Linked DNA regions of Homo sapiens. The protein of the gene in region 1 interacts with the protein of each later gene in a pairwise test. Each region holds a gene or a part of one and is shown on either strand. Other genes may lie near its edges.

Region 1 (5,238 bases):
AGTGGAAAAACCGCTTGGAAAAAATTAGACTAAAGATACCAACATCAGAGGTTGGTGGAGAAAAACAACTGAAATCCATTCTTGGTAGTGTTCATAGCAGGCTAACCTTAACCCCCATGTGGGCTCTGGTGACCCTCTCTACTCACCACACCCACTCACTGTGGGGGAAGGGCCTGAAACTTGGTGAAAGACTAAGTTAAGAAAAAATAGGTATTACTCCTAGAGGAAGTGGGATCTGGTAAGATTTGCCAAACAACATATTTGTAGAATTTTACTTAGTAAGCTGCTTTGAGATTATTTTATCAGTAAGTGCTAAATAAAGGAAAGGGATTTTTGATTTTTGCTTTTTGAGATGGGGTCTCACTCTGTCGCCCAGGTTGGAGTGCAGTGGCTCAGTCTTGGCTCACTGCAACTTCCACCTCCTGGGTTGAAGAAATTCTCCTGCCTCAGCCTCCCGAGTAGCAGGGACTACAGGTGTGTACCACCAAGCCTGGCTAATTTTTGTAATTTTAGTAGAGACGGGGTTTCACCATGTTGGTCAGGCTGGTCTTGAACTCCTGACCTCAAATGATCCACCCGCCTTGCCTCCCAGAGTGCTGAGATTATAAGCGTGAGCCACTGTGCCTGGCCAAGGAGAGGGATTTTTTTGGGGGGTGTTTGTTATTTTAAAATAGAAATTGATGACCAGAGGGATGAAATGACTTTCCCAGGGTCCAAAGTCTTGGTGCTTGGGCTTGAACCACAACTGCTGATTGCTGGCTTGAAGTTTTTCACAGGGCCCTGTTGACTTAATTACCTTTGGCTATGTGTCCAGCAATACTTTATCTTTGCAGCATTTTGTAATGCAAAGACTGTCCCATCTGCTGTTCAGAATTCTGTGATTCCGCATTCATAGTCTAAGCTCTTATCTCTTTCTTACTTTTTGTTTGTCTATTTACAACAGCCCATAGAGCCAGTTGCATTAACATCCTTTGCCAAATAATGTTATCACTGGAAATATGAGATATGAGACCTCCTAGAAATTCCTCTGAGAGTCAAGCTTAGGTAGGATGACTTTGTGCTTTGTTTTGTCATTTCTGTAAAATAGCTTCCCTTAAAATGAAGAATATCTGACAATAAGTATAAGGAGTGAAGCAAAGTAGTGAATTCTGAGTTAGAAAAAATCAGTTATGTTTTATCTGTGTGATTGCCTTTTTTAGTATTAGTGTTCCACAATCAATTGAAGTATTTACTAAGATTGAGGGAAAGATGCATCGTATTACTTGCTTGGGTAAACCCTTCCCAAGAAGCTGTTGTCTTCTGTTTAATGCATGAGATGTTGAGTAAGCTGTGACTGGTTTGTTATGAGATAGGCCAAAAGTTTTCTTGTTTTCCTTCTTTGTTGTCTGCACTGTAGAGGTAACACACATTGTGGTATGTGTTCTATTAGAGTATGATTTAGAGCTACCACAGTGTGGTAGCTAGTGGCCACATGTGGCTCTTAAGCACTTGAAATGTGGTTAGTCCAAATTTAGATGTATTGTAAGTGTAAAATATACACCAGATATTGAAGACTTAGTATAAAAAAAATCCCACTGACACTTTAAAAAATGATTATTTTTAAATTACAAAAATTGATTGCATGTTGAGATGAAAAGATAGTTTTGATATATTGGGTTAAATAACTATGTTAATGTAAATTATCATTATTATTATTATTATTTTTGAGACAGTCTTAATATTGCCTAGGCTGGAATATGGTGGTGTGATCACAGTTCACTGTAGCCTCAAATTCCTGGGCTCAAGTGATCCTCTCGCCTCAGTCTCCTGAGTGGCTTGGACCACAGGCACACACACCACCATGGCTGGCTAATTTTTAAATTTTTGTGGAGACGGGGTGTTAGTATGTTGTCCAGTGTGGTCTCGAACTCCTGGGCTCAAGTGATCCTCTTGTGTTGGCCTCCAAAAGCACTGGGATTATAGGTGTGAGCCACTGTTCCTGGCCTAAATTAGTTTTTTTAATGTGACTACTAGGAGGTTTAATGTGTGTCTTCTATTAATTTGTGTTGGACAGCACTGAATTAGAGTATAAAATGGCTTGCCAGGATTACAATTTAATATTCTCTCACTTGTACATTATGAAATATAGAGACATATATAGTACACAAAGTACAGTTATGACAGTGTATATGGATTACTTTGGCATATTTAAATCTGTTTGCATTTTAGTAAACTAGCAAGTATTTATACCAACAAGTATTTAAAAACCATATAGGGTTTTAAACAGTTGCTTCTGGGCCGTCCCTGAGACTTAAAAAGTACAGAGCAACTGCCCCACATTTCCACTATACTGATGAGACAAGCAGGTTGAAAAGGAATCCCAAGTGACTGTGGAGTGTGTAGCACGGGCTGGGTTGGGGGAGTGATGAGGATGGGATGGGACACCAAACCACAGGTAGTTCTCCTGGGTAGGTTTCTGACAGGGCTTTGGTCAGCTCCAGGTGTTCTTCCTCTTTCTTGCTAGATGATGCATGTGTGGTATCTGACCCAAGTGTGATTTGCCTCTGAGTTCAGAATTGACTGGAAATCACTAAGTAGGTGGATTCCTGAGGCTGCAAGGGGTTAAAAATATTCATTAAGTTTTGCTGAAAAAATAGAAGGTGTGATGTGAAGCTGCAACTGCTTATAACCTTTGTTTTACGCCCAAGCACAAGCCAGTAGAGTAGTGTGGAGGAAATGTTGCCCTTTAAGATTGATGACTGCTCATTTCCTTGCTCTTCAAAGGTCTTTTTCTCATTTGGATACCCAGCTGGGAATTTCAGTTGTTTTAGAAGTTTGACTGCTAAATAAGATGTATGTGATTTTTTAGCTTTAATATTTTAAAATATCTTTATTATGTTGTTTGTTTGTTAATGTTTGAATTGGGGTAAAAAATTCATTGCATTTTGGATCACAGTTCTGACTTGATTTTTATGGATTTACTACTCAGCATCAAAAGTTACACATCTAACATTGTGAAAATCTGATTTTTTGTTTGGTTAATTGGCGATAATTCTGTAACAAACATTACATTGTATATTGGGAGGGGTTGGTTTTGAAAAGGAGTATATTCATTGGTGATAGATTTTATAGTCATAAAGCAAATAACTGTTTGCATTAGAGCATAATCAGATAATGAAGTGGTTAGTAGAAACCAATAGACTATAGATTACCAAAATTAAGATCTTGTACAACAAAATATAATTAACACCGTAACTTGAATGTAATTTTTACGGGATTGTCTTATGAATGGTAATGATTCTAAGTGGTATGTGAAATGCTGTTACTAGCACATGCCAATTGATAGAATGCTGGAAAAATCACATTTTACATTATATTTTAGATAGGATTTTTGTATGCTTGAGGGTGACTTGGCTTATGTTTTTTTTTCTTTCCTTTTAGAATATGGTTTCTAGTTTTAGGGTTTCTGAACTACAAGTATTACTAGGCTTTGCTGGACGGAATAAAAGTGGACGCAAGCATGACCTCCTGATGAGGGCGCTGCATTTATTGAAGAGCGGCTGCAGCCCTGCGGTTCAGATTAAAATCCGAGAATTGTATAGACGCCGATATCCACGAACTCTTGAAGGACTTTCTGATTTATCCACAATCAAATCATCGGTTTTCAGTTTGGATGGTGGCTCATCACCTGTAGAACCTGACTTGGCCGTGGCTGGAATCCACTCGTTGCCTTCCACTTCAGTTACACCTCACTCACCATCCTCTCCTGTTGGTTCTGTGCTGCTTCAAGATACTAAGCCCACATTTGAGATGCAGCAGCCATCTCCCCCAATTCCTCCTGTCCATCCTGATGTGCAGTTAAAAAATCTGCCCTTTTATGATGTCCTTGATGTTCTCATCAAGCCCACGAGTTTAGGTAAGTGTTTGAGAATTCAGTTTCTTCTGAACAAGATAGTAAATGAAATGAGAGACCTTCAACTATTGATTAATGATGTGCTGTTAATATAGTGAAATTGAGGCATCAATGCCGAATGTTTGAATATACGGATAAAAATTCGGCAACCATGACTGAAATCTAATAGAAGCTTTATTTCATATCATTTGATCTTTCTTCTTCTCCAATTCTTTTATTGTAAAATACACATAATATAAAATGTATCATCTTGATCATTTTAAAGTGTACAGTTGAGTGGTGTTAAGTATGTTGGTAATGTTGTGCAGCCATCACTGCCATCCATCTCCAGAACTCTTTTCATCTTCTGAAGCTGAAACTCTGTACCCATTAAACAATAGCCTTCCTCTCCTCCTCTCCCACTAGCCCCTGGCAGTTACCATTCTACTTCCACTGTCTATGATTTTGACTATTCCAAGTACCTCATGTCGTTGGAATCATACAGTATTTGTCTTGTGACTGGCTTATTTCACTAAATGTAATGTCCTCAAGGTTCTAGCATGCTGTAGTTTATGTTAGAATTTCTTTCCTTTTAAAGGCTAAATAATACAATAGTATACATTTTTAAAGAAAAATAGTAATCTTTTGCTCACTCCACTACTCATCCCTCAATCTCACTTTCAAGAGGCAACAACCTTAATTATTTTAGCTGTTTCTTCTGGTTTTACTTCTATATTTCTGTGTTATAGGATACCACATTTTGCTTATCCATTGGACACTTGGGTTGCTCCCACATTTTAGCTATTGCGAATAATTCTGTGGACACGGGTATACACGTATCTCTTTGAGACCCTGCTTTTCAATTCTTCTGGCTGTATACCCACAAGTGGAATTGCTGGATCACATAGTCATTCTGTTTTTAGTATTTTGAGGCATCACCATACTGTTTTCCGTGGCAGCTGCATTTTACATTCCCTTCAACAGTGCACAAGGGTTCCAGTTTCTCCACATCCTTAACAACACTTTTATTTTCCTTTTTTTTTTATAGTGGCCATTATAATGGGTGTCAGGTGGTATCTTATTGTAGCTTTGATTTGCATGTCTGTAATGATGGTGATATTGTGCATTTTCATGTGCTTTTTGGCCATTTATGTATCTTTCAAGAAATGTATAGCCAAGTCTCTTGCCCATTTTTGAATTGGTTTGTTTTATTGTTGTTGAGTTTTAGGAGTTCTCTGTATATTCTGGATATAATCCCTTATCAGATATATGAATGTGCAAATATTTTCTCCCACTCTGTGGTTTGCCTTTTTTACTCTGTTGATAGTGTCTTTTGATGTACAACTTAACATTTTTTCATGAAATTC
Region 2 (4,458 bases), on another chromosome or scaffold:
GAATATCATGTTAAAATACTGATTGAGATAGAGTAATATTGCCTTTTGGAAACTGTCTTTATTAAATTGGTCTTTATGGTACTCCATGGAAGAAATACAGTATAATAGAAATAAGAAAAATTGTTGCAGCTGAAAGACTTGAGCAGCTTGAAGAACTATCTGTTTAGAAGAAAGCAATATATAAAATACCTATCTGAAAGAAGGTATTTTGTGATAAGTGGCAGTTATTCATTGGTTCCATCAAAGAAGAAATATTAGAAAAGCTTGTGAAAAATAGAGAGAGAAGGTCCATAGAACCTGTTTTTATTCTTTTTAAAAATGTTTCTTTAGAGAGGCTTGCTGTCCTCCAAAGGTTTTTTTTTCTTAATGCCCTTTGTGCAGTTTTCTTTGCATGTTTAATAGAAATATAGTATCAAAATTTAAAGAATTAATATTTTTGTACATGTACTGTTACTTCAAGTTAATGAATTTGAGATTTCATTCCATTACTTGCCATATATGTAACAAAGAAAGTGTCAAATCTTTTTTTCAAATACTTGGATTAGATAACCATTTTCTTTTCCAAAGACAGTCATTGGATACACTGCTCACAGCAGTTTGAAATATTAAAACCGTAGGTCACAATTCTGGATTCCATCTGACTGAAATTAGATTATCCACAGAGATGTTATACATAATACAGAAGTGTCTTTTCATTCTTTCATCTACTTTACTTTGTAAAATCAGGCTAATGTTTTGCAACTGTTGCTTTCCTTGTTTGTCGTTTTGGTGGTGGTTTGTTTTTGTTGTTGTTTTTGCCGTAGGGTTGAGGATTAAAGAAAGTATCTTAAGAACCTGAATGGTTTTTCACCTTACTGCTTTGCTGTCTCTATTTCATAGCCTTCACAGGTATTCAAATGAGAATACCCTTTACGTGACTTTTCATTATTTAAGCAAAAGTTTAGAGTGTCTACTATATGCCAGTCACTGTTCTCAGGACTTTGAATACAGTAAATACGGCCAAATATTCATATTCTACTGTAGTTTACTCTCTAATTTACAAATTAAAACTAGAATTTTGCTCCCTTGGTATTCCTAAATAAGATCTATGTTATGATCGTTGTTCAGACTGGGTAAAGAAGCAGCCCTAAACTTGATCTCTCCTGGTCTTAATCTCTAAGCCATTCTAAACCCAGATTTGAATGTTTCAGCCTAATTTTTCTCCAGACCATAGAAGCCCCTGTGTTAAATATGCAGTCCCTTTCATTGATACATGTATCATTTTCCTACCATTCTAGCTTCTTTTGTATTGTGAAAACAAATGAGAGTGAACAGTGGGGAAAATATGGGATCAGATAGGCCCAAATTCAGCACTGGTCTCTGCATTTTACTGGCTGAGCTTACTAGCTTGGTAACCATGAGCAATTTATTTGACCTCCCTAAGCCTCAGTTTTCCTAAATCCAAATGGGGTTGTTTGGTGGAATCAGAATGTTGTATGTAAATCTCCTGGTCCAATGCCTGGTGCCAGAAGCTTCATTAATGCAATTATCTTACCCCCAATCTTGCTTCTGCTACTCTGGCTATTGTGATTTGCCCACATGTCTGTTTTAAGCTTTACATTTTCCCCACAGTATGGGATGCAGTGGTAGACTGACTGAGCTTCAGCCTTGTCCCCCTATCAGCATGCTCACACAGTTGTCAAGATTTAATTTTTTTTCCTTGTGGGAAGGAGAAATCACTAATTTCCATGATTAGAAGATATACAAAATAGAAAAGTTTCAAGAAAAGGAATCTTAATCTTGGCACAAATCACTAAGGTAATTTGAATTGTTACAGGCAGACTTTCAACTCATTCTCCTAAACTTATTTAAATACGAAAACCAAAAATGACCTTTCACACTATGATCATACCTCACATTATTCATCTACACATCCAAACGGGATCGCCTCTGGGGGGAAAAAAATCTGTACTGCACCCAGCATTAATATTTTTTTTTGCTCATGCTATTTTCTGCCTGAAACACTCTTTTTTCCTAGGAATCCCCATCTATCAAAATGCCACTTTCTTTGAGGTCGTTTCTCAAGTACCACATTTAAGAAATATTTTCTGATATCCATCCTCTTCTACACTCTCCCAAACTGTACACGTTCTGTCCATTAACTCTCCAGAGCATTATACCTTTCTTACAGCACTTACTGTCCAGTGCTCCTCTTGTTTGTTTTTATTGCGTTGTTGTAGGTAGAGTTTATGCCTTCCCTAAAAGGCTGCAGACTAGGTCTTATTCCACTCTGTGCTGTCATACCTGGCACAAGACCATTCACATCATAGGTATTCAGTAAATATTTGTGGACGTGAGCTGGCTCTTGGAGTATGACAAAACTGATCAATAACTTTTGTCCACAATTATGCCCAGCATCAGCACAATGGCTATCATACATTAGACACTCAAATATCTATAAAATGAAAGAGTGAATAGTAAGTCATCATTCTCTCATTTGGGAGCTTCTTAGGGTGTCAGATAAGCATATATTAAGCACCTCCTATATAACTGGAGCTGTAAGAACTGATCTCTGCTCCTCAATTTAATTGGAAAAAAGTAAATTGTTACTAATATCTGCAGACTTTGAAGATGGTAGGTGTTTGAGTAGGGATGGCATGGAGAGCTTAATATAGAATTGTTTGCATTGTGAGAGATACCCTCTGCTACCTGAACTCAGAAACCAAATAGATTTTTATATCAAATATTTGGACACTTAACTTGTATTTCCACTCCTAGGTATATATCCAAGAGAACTTAAAACATGTTCACACAAAAACTTGCACACAAATATTTGTAGCAGCCTTATTTGTAAAAGGCAAACTCAAATGTCCATTAATTATTGGATGACTAAACAAAATGCGATATAGCCATACAATGGAATATTATTCAGCAACAAAGAGAAACAAAGTAGCAATACCTGCTGTAACATGGATAAAACTTGAAAATATTAAAGTGAAAGAAGTCACATACAAAAGGCAACCTATTATGTGATTCCATTTATTTAAGATGTCTAGATTAGGCAAAACTAATAGAGACAGAAAGTACATTAGTGGATGGGAATGGGAGTGACTGCTAGTATGGAGTTTCCTTTGGAAGTGATGAAAATGTGCCAGAATTAGATAGTGGTGGTGGTTGCATAACCTTATATACTAAAATATCTTGTATACTAATATACAGTTGACACCTGAACAATGAGGGGGTTCGGGGTGCTAACCCCTGTGTTGTCAAAAATCCATGTATAACTTCTGACTCCCCAAAAAGTTAACTACGTAAATAGCTTACTGCTGACTGGAAGCCTTACCAATAGCATAAATAGTTGATTAACACATGTTTTATATGTTACATGTACTATGTACTGTATTCTTACAATAAGCTAGAGAAAGAAAATGTTACTAAGAAAATGATAAGGAAGAAAAAATATGTTTACTATTTATTATTCGTTAAGTGGAAGTGGATTATCATAAAGGTATTCATCCTTGTCATCTTCACATTGAGTAGGCTGAGAAGGAGGAAGAGGAAAGGTTGGTCTTACTGTCTCAAGTGGTGGAGGCAGAAGAAAATCAGCATATAAGTAGACTCATGCAGTTCAACCCATGTTGTTCAAGGGTCAACTGTACAAAAAAAATCCTGAAATATACACTAAAGGGGTCAGTTTTATGGTATGTGAATTATATCTAAAAGAGAGAGATACTTAGACTTGAAGAATAGAGAATTTTGAATGGAGCCAGAAGAAAGAAGCAAGAGGTGTGAAAGCAAGGAAATGATCATTCTTTCTCAGATCCTAGAGAGAAATATAAGCAGCTAGGTACAGGGCTAAAGGTATGTTAAGGATCAGGTGAGGATGGATATGAGGATAGCTTCTGGGTTTTTGTCTTAATGTAGCAGGGATTTTGGTAAATACTTAGACTACAGAGGTATTAACAAAGGAGAAAAACATCTTATGACCTTGAAGGAAGCTTCAGATTTCTTCTTGATTAGGTCAAGGATGTGGTATATGGTCTTTTTGGTTTCTGTGTTACGGTCAGCTGAGTTTAAAGAGTGGGAGTATTCTAAGGTAAGGAGTCTAGTAGCAATCAAAACAAAGTTACTGGGGAAGATGGGAGAATAGAGACTAGACAAAGATGTTAGAATTTGATTCTAAAGCTCTCCTCAGGTAATAAAAATAGATAAATCTTAATGAGAAGGAACCAAGGGCAGTGATTTGGAGAAGTCAGTACAAATAAAGGTATTCATTTGAAGAAATATTTGAGTGCCTTTTATGTGCCAGGCACTATTAAATAAAACTATAGCTATTTTCCTTATTTGACTTTTTTTCTGAAGATAAAATCTTATGAGTGTGATTAATGGTTCTACAAGCATGGGTAGTTCTAGATATGATACCTACATTTCCCTAAAAGATTGTACTGATTTTTAATGATAACAGCAATGTATAAGGAT
Region 3 (5,088 bases), on another chromosome or scaffold:
GGCTTATTGAGACTTAACTCACATATAATGCACCCATTTAGAGCATACAATTCCATGGTTTGTAATATATTTCCAGAGTCACGCAGCCATCACTGAAATCAAATTGTAAAATACTTTCATCACCCAAATGAAAACCGCATCCCTCTCAGTGGTCATTCCCCACCCACTGGCACCCACACGTCCCCCTCCTGTCTCTGTGGATGGGCCTTTCCTGAACATTCTGATCACACACTGTGTGACCTTTGTGTCTGGCGTCTCTCACTGAGTGTGATGTCTTCTAGGTACATCCATGCTGTGACTTGTGTCAGAGACTCGCTCCTTTTTTTTATGGCTGATAATATTCTTTTTTTTTTTTTTTGAGACGTAGTCTTGCTCTGTTGCCCAGGCTGGAGTGCAGTGGCACAATCTTGGCTCACTGCAACCTCTGCCTCCCAGTTCATGGGATCCTCCTGCCTCAGCCTCCCATGTAGCTGGGATTACAGGCGTGCACCACCACGCCTGGCTAGTTTTTGTATTTTTAATAGAACTGGAGTTTCACCATGTTGGCCAGGCTGGTCTCGAACTCCTGACCTCAAGTGATCCGCCTGCCTCCCAAAGTGCTGGGATTACAGGCGTGAGCCACTGCGCCCGGCCCATGGCGGATAATATTCTGTTGTAAGGATATATCCCGTCATCGATCCATGCATCATTAGCAGACGTTTGAGTTGTTTTCACTTTTTGGCTATTATGAATCACGCTGCTACCGACGCTTGTGTACACGCTTTTGTTTGAACACCTGTTTTCAGTTGTCTGGAGTATATTCCTAGGAGTGAACTGCTGAATTGCATGGTGATTCCACATTTATTTAACCCTTTGAGGAAATGCCAGTCTGTTTTCCAAAGCAGCTGCATCTGCCTCCTAGACATCTGAAGGATTCAATGAATGTGTATTGAGCATCCACCATGGGCAATGCTGTGAACCAAACAGGCAGGCCACAGGGAGAAGCCGACTTATGGAGGCAAAAAAAAAATCAGAGAAGGCCTGGCTGAGCAAGTGACATTTAAGCGGACTTGAGGAAGAGGAAGTGGGCCGGGCGTGGGGGCTCACGTCTGTAATCCCACCACTTTGGGAGGCCGAGGCGGGTGGATCACGAGGTCAGGAGTTCAAGACCAGCCTGGCCAAGATGGTGAAACCCTGTCTCTACTAAAAATACAAAAATTAGCCGGGCGTGGTGGCAGGCGCGTGTAATCCCAGCTACTCGGGAGGGTGAGGCAGAGAATTGCTTGAACCCGGGAGGCAGAGGTTGCAGTGAGCCGAGATCCAGCCACTGCACTCCACCCTGGACGACAGGGTGAGACTCCGTCTCAAAAACAAAAGAGGAGGTGAGCAGCCCCAACTTGGGCCAGAAGCCTAGACTGCTGCTGGGAGGTCCCTGATCCACCAGAGCGGAGCCTCCTGACCCATCCTCACGAAGTCCTTGCCATCTCCCTTCACCACCATCTTTCCCCAAACACTTCCAGCCCAGCTCCCAACCCCACCCCCTGCCTGACCCACACCCAGTTCTCAGCTTCCCAGCATCCCAGTCTCTCTGTCCTGGATATCGTGTGATGTCCCCGTTGCACAGGGGGGAAAGCCGAGACCCCAGAGGGAGAGCAGCCCCTATGGCCAGAAGCCCTCGGATCCGGACGTCGGGGGCTCTAAACTGAGTAAATACATAGGAAACTTCTCCGCTAGGTTTTGCAGGATGTTAAGAACAGGTCCCACCTTGCCTAGGGCTGGGGACTGCCTCGCAGGACCTTAACCCTAGCAACCCACCTCCGTCCCCATGGCAACCGGGGCGGGGCCCGACCCGGATCCGCCGGTCGCCCCATCCGGCAGCGGCTGGGAGTCTTGCCTTCAGAGAGGGAGGAGGAGTCCGCGCCTCTCCTACTGGCCCTTTAAGAGGCTCCGCCCGGCAAGTCCGCCACTCGCTCCCGATTGGTCCCGAGCGCGGCCGAGCGCAGCCGAACTTGACGCACCGCCCGCAGCCTTCCTTACCAACCTCCCACGCGACTCAGCAACCTCCCCAACCAATCGCCGGCCGGCGCGCCGATCGGTATCTGCATGGGCTCGCCCGGGGGGAAGGTCTCACCCAATGGGACCGTTCGCCGAGGCCTTCATTAGCATGCCGGGGGCGGGGAGGGGCGGGGCGGCCGACGGGGGCGGGCTGCGGGCGGTTGGTTGGAGCGTCGCGCAGTCGGGAGGTCCGGGAAAGTTTCTTTGGAGGTGAAAACAGCCGCGGAACTCCGGGCCCTGAGAGGGGGCGGGGGTGCAGGGGTCCCAGGGCCGGGCCGGGGTCTTTCCTGGCCCGGGGGAAACCGGCCCAGGCCTCCCGGGGGGGGCAATCGCCCAACAAAGGATTCTTGGGGCGCCCGCCCTCGAGGACTTCCCTGCCCCTGGATCCGGCCCCCCCAGCGCTCCGGGCCCGGCATCCCGGGGCTCTCCATCGCGGGGTACCCCAGTTCGCGGTCTGCCATCGGGCAGCCCGGGCGCTACTCACCTCCGCCCGCGTCCGTGTTCCAGGTCCGGCCCGGAGCGGCCATGTCCCACGGCCCCAAGCAGCCCGGCGCGGCCGCCGCGTGAGTGCACTGATCCCCTCCCCACGCCCTCGCTACTTTCCCGGCTGCAGCCCTAGCTCCTGAACCCCTGACCCAGTCCCTCCCGCCGGAGTCTTGACTCCCCCACCTGGGTCAGGGGGCTTCTCCCTCCACCCAATTCTGCACCCCCCACCTCGGCCTCCAGTCCCTCCCAGGAGCCCCGCTTGTCCCACCTTCCCCGGATACTGACCCCATCAGACCCTGCCTCCTCGGGCTCATGCACTCTCGCTGCAGCCCCGCCGTCGGGGGTCAAAACGCCCTGGGGTGGGCTTTTGGGGGAGGGGAGATTCTTGGGACGGGGCTGACCGCGGTATCCTTGGCTCCAGGCCGGCGGGCGGCAAGGCTCCGGGCCAGCATGGGGGCTTCGTGGTGACTGTCAAGCAAGAGCGCGGCGAGGGTCCACGCGCGGGCGAGAAGGGGTCCCACGAGGAGGAGGTGAGAGTCCCTGCGCTGAGCTGGGGGAGGCCCCGGGCTCCCGCCCCAGCCTCGAAGCCCCGCCCCAGGCTGGATTTGAATTGCTTGTGGCTCCGCCCACAGCCCATTTTCCTCTGGAAGCTGAGACCCCGCCCCGTGCCAGCTGCCACGCCCCTGACAGGTCCTCTGCCACTCTAAGTCCAGGCCCCGCCCACCGCACAATGCCAGCTCTGCCCACTCTAAGGTCCCGCCCACTTCCACTCCTTGGGGGCGGCACCCTCCCCTTGGTCCTGTGGGCCCGTTCTCCAGCAGAAAACCACGCCCACCAAGCAGAGGCCACGCCCACAACCGAAGTCAACGCCAACCCTGTACTCAAACCTCGGCCCATAGTTCCTCAGATCCCCTCACCCCTGGCCAGGGATCCCTCTAACCCACCGTGTCCCGACTGCTGACCGGGCCCTACCTCCATCTTTTCCGGGTTCTTCCTCCCAGCTAGGCCCCGCCCCCATCCCCGCCCATACGCGTTAGGCCCCGCCCATGCCCCTCTGAGCCCTGCCCCAGTACGCCAGGCCCCCCTCCCAACGACGCAGCCCGGTTCTGCAGCCGGTGAAGAAACGCGGCTGGCCCAAGGGCAAGAAGCGGAAGAAGATTCTGCCGAATGGGCCCAAGGCACCGGTCACGGGCTACGTGCGCTTCCTGAACGAGCGGCGCGAGCAGATCCGCACGCGCCACCCGGATCTGCCCTTTCCCGAGATCACCAAGATGCTGGGCGCCGAGTGGAGCAAGCTGCAGCCAACGGAAAAGCAGGTGGGCGGGGCGGGGCGCCGAGCAGGGCTGGCGGGGTCCACGGACTACCCCCCAGTAGCCCCGACCCCCAAAGGATTCCACGTGCAGGGTTTTTCCTTCTTCCTGGAGAAATGCCCACCCATAACCAACTTTTTTTTTTTTTTTTTTTGTGAGATGGAGTCTTGCTCTGTTGCCCAGGCTGGAGTGCAGTGGCGTGATCTCAGCTCACTGCAACCTCCGCCTCCCGGCTTCAAGCAATTCTCCTGTCTCAGCCTCTCAGGTAGCTGGGATTACAGGCGCGTGCTACCATGCCCTGCTAATTTTTGTATTTTTAGTAGAAATGGGGTTTCGCCATGTTGGCCAGGCTGGTCTCGAACTCTTGACCTCAAATGATCCGCCCACCTCAGCCTCCCAAAGTATTGATATTAAAGGCGTTAGCCACCGTGGCCAGCCCATGACCAGCTTTTGGGGGCGCGGCTAGCAAGAGGCAAGACAGATTGAAAACTGGATGACCAACAAAGATATGTCTAAGAAGTCAGGATGGGGCCTGGATTTTTTGCGAAACCCGATTTTCATATCCTGTTAGTTTAAAAATTGCAAAAACATCACGGAAATGTAACAAAAGCCATCACTGCTTTGCATCCCTGTAAGTGAGATTTCAAAGAGAGAAACGGGTGCGGGAGGGAGTCCAGGCATCCGCATACGCTGGAGGTTGGGTTCCTGCCCATGACTCTGGCGTCCGGGAGTGGTTTGTCAGGGCTGGAGGTGGGGAAGAGTCCGGGGCATGGGAAGTGAGGTGGGAGCTCGGAGGTCCCTGAGCAACAGGCTGAGGAGCCGGTTCTGTCTGCCTGGAGGGAATAGGGAGCTATAGAAGGTTCAGGAGAGGGGAGGGTGCTGTGAAAGCAGAGTGATAAAGACTGGATCCTGGCGTTGGAGGCTTCCCCTGCTTCAAGCCTTCTGGTGCTGCCCCCCAGCGGTACCTGGATGAGGCCGAGAGAGAGAAGCAGCAGTACATGAAGGAGCTGCGGGCGTACCAGCAGTCTGAAGCCTATAAGATGTGCACGGAGAAGATCCAGGAGAAGAAGATCAAGAAAGGTGGGAGGGGTCGGGCGCGGTGGCTCACGCCTGTCATCCCAGCACTTTGGGAGGCCGAGGCGGGTGTATCACCTGAGGTCAGACCAGCCTGGCCAACATAGTGAAACCCTCCCCCTCTACTAAAAATACAAAAATTACCTGGGCGTGGTGGCGGGTGCCTGTAATCCCAGCTACTCGG
Region 4 (4,458 bases), on another chromosome or scaffold:
AGAGCCCCGGCAGAGGCGCTGTCGGCCAGGCTCGTGATGCCCTGCCCTGCAGCATCTGGCTGTGTAAACCCTCAAACCCTGGTCCAGGTGGTTTCCTAAATGGCCCTCATGCCCCTGCCATCCTCCCCCAGGGAGATGCTGATGACACCCCCTATCTATCTGCACCAAGCTCACCACATACTCATCTGGGAACACGCATGGCTTACAGCGGTCTCCAGACCCGCAACCCCTCCCTGGGCCTTGCAGCTCCGATGACACCCCGTGGCTAACCCTGGGCCCCCTCTTCAGCACAGTCACCTGCTGAACAGCCAGGGTCCTTGGGTCCTGCCCCCCAGGAGGCGACCCTTAGACCTGGGGTGAACCCAGCTCCCAGAGGTCCTGTGCCATGGAGGGAGTGCCACATTTGCAGGGAGAGCTACCCTGAAGGCCAAAACAGGCGCCAACAAGAGCAGCTGGAATCCAATCGCACCCTTCCCGGGGAGCAGAAGGCAGTCCTGCCAGGTCCCCAAACTGTACAGGGGCCAGGGAGGTTCCCTCAGAAGCAGTTCTCGGCAGAAGGGAACCAGGCTTGGCAGGTGTAGAGAGCCAGGGCCAGGTGGAAAGCCAAGCCCCAGGGTGACAGCGCCGGGGATTAGTTCATTAATTCAGTTCGGGCATCTGGCCAGCCAGGCGGGAAGAGTCCCGCCTCCCTGCAGCAGGTGTGCTGACTCAGCACTGGGCCTCGGTGGCTGTGAAGTTACCTGAGAAGTTTGCAGAGGTGATCAGGGCCAGGCCCAGAGCGCTTAGCAAGAAAAAGGATGTGACTTGCAGGGATAGCCCTGGAGCCCCTTATCTCAAGGACTCCCACTTCCACAGCCCAAGAGGCTCCTGGGAGGACACGCCACTGTCCTAGAATGAACCTCCAACTCCTGACCCACCTCTGCAGCACCTCCCCGCAACGCCACTATTCTCAGGGGCCCTCCGACTGGAGACAAGCGGCGTCGGCTCTGCGTCTCAGGATGGGGGTGTCTTCGGAGGATGAATGAGGCCAGTATGTGAGGTGCAGGTGCAACGCCATTTACAACCTGGAGGGCATCGTCTCCTTCTCATGCCCTAGAGTTAGGAGCTCACGGAGCCCTCAGGAATCGGGCCTGTCTTCCCTGCCCACTCCACCCTCCAGCAGCCACTCCCGACCTCACCGGGCCTCTCACCCACTGCTCTCTTGGGTTTGTCTTGGCAGCAAGAGCCCATCCTCCTGGCTGCCCACACATCTGCTTGGCCTCCTGAGCTCCCAGCACTGAGTATGTTTGACACTCAGACCTTCTGGGTTTGTCCACTGTCACTTCTTTCTTTCTATTGCTGCACTGAGAGTACACCCAGCCACCCCCACCCATTCTGAACTGTAAATCAACAACCATAAACGCTGGTAGTGGTGGACACAAAATAGGAATCATAATCCCAGCACTTTGGGAGGCCGAGGCGAGTGGATCAACTGAGGTCAGGAGTTCAAGACCAGCCTGGACAACATGGTGAAACCCCATCTCTATTAAAAGCATAAAAATCCACCGGGCGTGCTGGCACATGCCTGTAATCCCAGCTACTAGGGAGGCTGAGGTAGGAGAATCGCTTCCCGGGAGGCAGAAGTTGCAGTGAGCTGAGATCGCGCCACTGCACTCCAGCCTGGGTGACAGCGAGACTCTGTCTCAAAAAAAAAAAAAAAAAAAAAGGAATCAAACATCTAAGAAGCACATTCTTTGATCTATTTGTTCTCCTCCAAGATTACACTAAGGAAATAAAGATAATCCTAAGGCTTAGTGAGCTTGATTTCAGTTTCATGCTGGGGTAGGGATTTTTGTTGATTTGTCTTTTCCACTGATAGATCTTCTGCGCCTTGAGCAGGGCACGAAATGCACATGGCGCTGAGGAAAGACTTGTTGGCTAAATGAATGTGTCGTATCTTCTATTGCAGTTATGTAAAATGAGGTAACTGCAAACATCTATCTACCCCGTAGAGGGCTTACAAAATGATGGCTTCTTCACCGAACAGTCTGTGCCACCAGAAAAACAGCCCTTATGGAAAAATATGTAATGCCTACGGGAAGTCTTCATGACCTAGAGTTAACGGAAAAGTGCAGGCTGGGCCGGGCGCGGTGGCTCACACCTGTAATCCCAACACTTGTGGGAGGCCAAGGCAGGCGGATCACTTGAACCTAGGCATTCAAGACCAGCCTGGGTGAAACCCCATCTCCTAAAAATACAAAAATCAGCTGGGTGTGATGGTGGGCACCCATAGTCCCAGCTACTTGGGAGGCTGAGGTGGGAGGATCCCTTAACTGGGGGAGATTGAGGCTGCAGTAAGCCATGATTGCACCACTGCACTCCAGCTCGTGTCTCAAAAAAATAAAAAATAAATAAATAAGAGAGCGCAGGCAGGATCCTGGTCCCTCACCTCCAGTGAATGTGCACACGCAGCCACAGACCGGGCAAAGCATGTGACCTGGGCACATTTATTTATTTATTCTGGAACTACTTGCTGAGCATCCACTGTCTTGCCAGGCACTGGCCTAGGCGCTGGGCTGCAGCGTAAGGAGGCCTTGGCCTCTCAGAGCCTCATCTACACGGCATGGCCCCACCCCCAGCTCCTCAATCCAGAGTGACTACAGGGGGTTACACCTCATGTCCTCCTGGCTGTGTGGTGTCCAGGTAACAAACTCCTGCCCTCCAGGTTATGGATCAGCCCTCTTGTGATCAAAAGCAGGACTTACGGGGCAGTGTGGTGATGTGGGGACTCGGAGGCAGGCCGGCCCAGCTGCCAGGTGCACCTGCTCGGAGCATCGGGCCGGATCCACAGGGGCTCCTTGGCTTCCTTATCCTCTGGGGACCCCTTCTCCAGGCTCCCCTTCGCCGAGTGTGGCCCTGAGCGGTGGGGGCAGCCTGTGGGCCCCACTTCTGCCTGGGGGGTCTCAGAAGGCATGCTGGGACCTGGCAAAGCAAGGAGAGAGGCGTCGGTTCAGGCTCGGATGCTGTGGGGTTCCAGCGAACCCTGCTGACCCGGCCCCCTCTGGGAGGCGTGCTCTGCTCCCTCAGAGAAGCCCAGGAAGAACTGCACAAAAACACAGGCACCAGCCCTGTGGGCAGCCGCTTGGCCATTTCTCTCCTATAGGCATATACCAAAAAAAATGGAAGCAGACAGTTGCTTGGGCCGGGTGCGGTGGCTCACGCCTCTCATCCCAGCACTTCGGGAGGCTGAGGCAGGAGGACCACTTGAGTCCACGAGGTCAAGACCAGCCTGGGCTCCAGCCCCATCTCTATTTAAAAAATAAAACAACAACAACAAAACAGATGCTTGCACACCCATGCTCACTGCTGCACTATTCACAAGTCAAAACGTGGAGGCAGCCCACGTATCCGCAGACGGATGAACACACACAGTAGGCTCATACACACACTAGAATATTACTCAGCCCTAAGAGAAATGAATTCTGGCACACGCTACAACACGGACGAACCTTCAGGACATTATGCCAAGCGAAATGAGCCAGACACAAAAGGACAAATACTGTGTGATTCCACTTCCACGATGAGGCACCTGGGACTCTCGAACGCCCCTCTATGTCTGGCAAATTCATAGAGATAGAAAGTAGAATAGAAGCGGCCAGCGGCTGAGGTGAGTGGGGAAGGGAGGGTGATTGTTTAATGGGTGCAGAGGTTGTGCTGGGGATGATGAAAACGTTCTGGGTGGAGATAGTCACGGTGGTTGCCTCACACTTAGAAATGGTTACAGTGATCAGTGTTACGTGTATTTTACCCAGGATTAAAAACACACACACGCACCTGAAATAGATGAGACAGAAAAAAAAAAGAAGAAAGCAAAAAGAAAGCCAGGCGAGGTCCCATCTGCTGCCCCTCCTCTGGGGGGACAAGGAACCCACGACCACCTCCCACCTTGCCTTCTTCAGAGGGCCCAGGACTGGGCTCAGCCCCGCTTCACCCTCCTTTGATTCCCCACATTCAACAGGAAGACTAAGTCCACAGCCGTCACTCACCGGACAGATGGTGCTGACAGTTCAGCACCGCTCAAACTCTGTAAGGAGACGTGACAACAGAATCTGTCATGGGATCCTGGAATAGAAAAGGGCAGTGAGGAGAAAACTCTGCAAATCTGACTCAAGCGCGGACTTTGGTTAATGTCAACAATGGTTATGTGATCGTGGAATTGGCTCATTAATTGTAACAAATAGGCCGGGCGCGGTGGCTCACGCCTGTAATCCCAGCACTTTGGGAGGCCGAGGCGGGCGGATCATGAGGTCAAGAGATCGAGACCATCCTGGCCAACATGGTGAAACCCCGTTTCTACTAAAACTACAAAAATTAGCCAAGCATGGTGGCGCACACCTGTAGTCCCAGCTACTCGGGAAGCTGAGGCAGGAGAATCGCTTGAACCCGGGAGGGGGAGGTCAGTGAGCCGAGATCGCGCCA

Evidence for each region. Proteins that work in one complex are often made in the same cells at the same time.
Region 2: the proteins of PIAS2 (region 1) and HMG20A interact in binary tests that used the Homo sapiens proteins (3 or more experiments, as listed by UniProt).
Region 3: the proteins of PIAS2 (region 1) and HMG20B interact in binary tests that used the Homo sapiens proteins (3 or more experiments, as listed by UniProt).
Region 4: the proteins of PIAS2 (region 1) and CBS interact in binary tests that used the Homo sapiens proteins (3 or more experiments, as listed by UniProt).

Annotation. Positions count from the first base shown.
Region 1 is NC_000018.10:46,889,237-46,894,474, reverse strand, and holds part of PIAS2 (E3 SUMO-protein ligase PIAS2), read left to right. Parts: intron 1-943; exon of another isoform or gene 944-1,044; intron 1,045-3,420; coding exon 3,421-3,895; intron 3,896-5,238. UniProt on the Homo sapiens protein: Functions as an E3-type small ubiquitin-like modifier (SUMO) ligase, stabilizing the interaction between UBE2I and the substrate, and as a SUMO-tethering factor.
Region 2 is NC_000015.10:77,423,025-77,427,482, forward strand, and holds part of HMG20A (high mobility group protein 20A), read left to right. Parts: intron 1-4,458. UniProt on the Homo sapiens protein: Plays a role in neuronal differentiation as chromatin-associated protein. Acts as inhibitor of HMG20B. Overcomes the repressive effects of the neuronal silencer REST and induces the activation of neuronal-specific genes.
Region 3 is NC_000019.10:3,570,751-3,575,838, forward strand, and holds the start of HMG20B (SWI/SNF-related matrix-associated actin-dependent regulator of chromatin subfamily E member 1-related), read left to right. Parts: upstream 1-2,193; 5' UTR 2,194-2,244; exon of another isoform or gene 2,245-2,541; 5' UTR 2,542-2,559; coding exon 2,560-2,597; exon of another isoform or gene 2,598-2,941; coding exon 2,942-3,050; exon of another isoform or gene 3,051-3,067; intron 3,068-3,632; coding exon 3,633-3,836; intron 3,837-4,789; coding exon 4,790-4,910; intron 4,911-5,088. UniProt on the Homo sapiens protein: Required for correct progression through G2 phase of the cell cycle and entry into mitosis. Required for RCOR1/CoREST mediated repression of neuronal specific gene promoters.
Region 4 is NC_000021.9:43,069,241-43,073,698, forward strand, and holds part of CBS (cystathionine beta-synthase), read right to left. Parts: intron 4,102-4,458; 5' UTR 4,026-4,101; intron 2,962-4,025; 5' UTR 2,954-2,961; coding exon 2,745-2,953; intron 1-2,744. UniProt on the Homo sapiens protein: Hydro-lyase catalyzing the first step of the transsulfuration pathway, where the hydroxyl group of L-serine is displaced by L-homocysteine in a beta-replacement reaction to form L-cystathionine, the precursor of L-cysteine.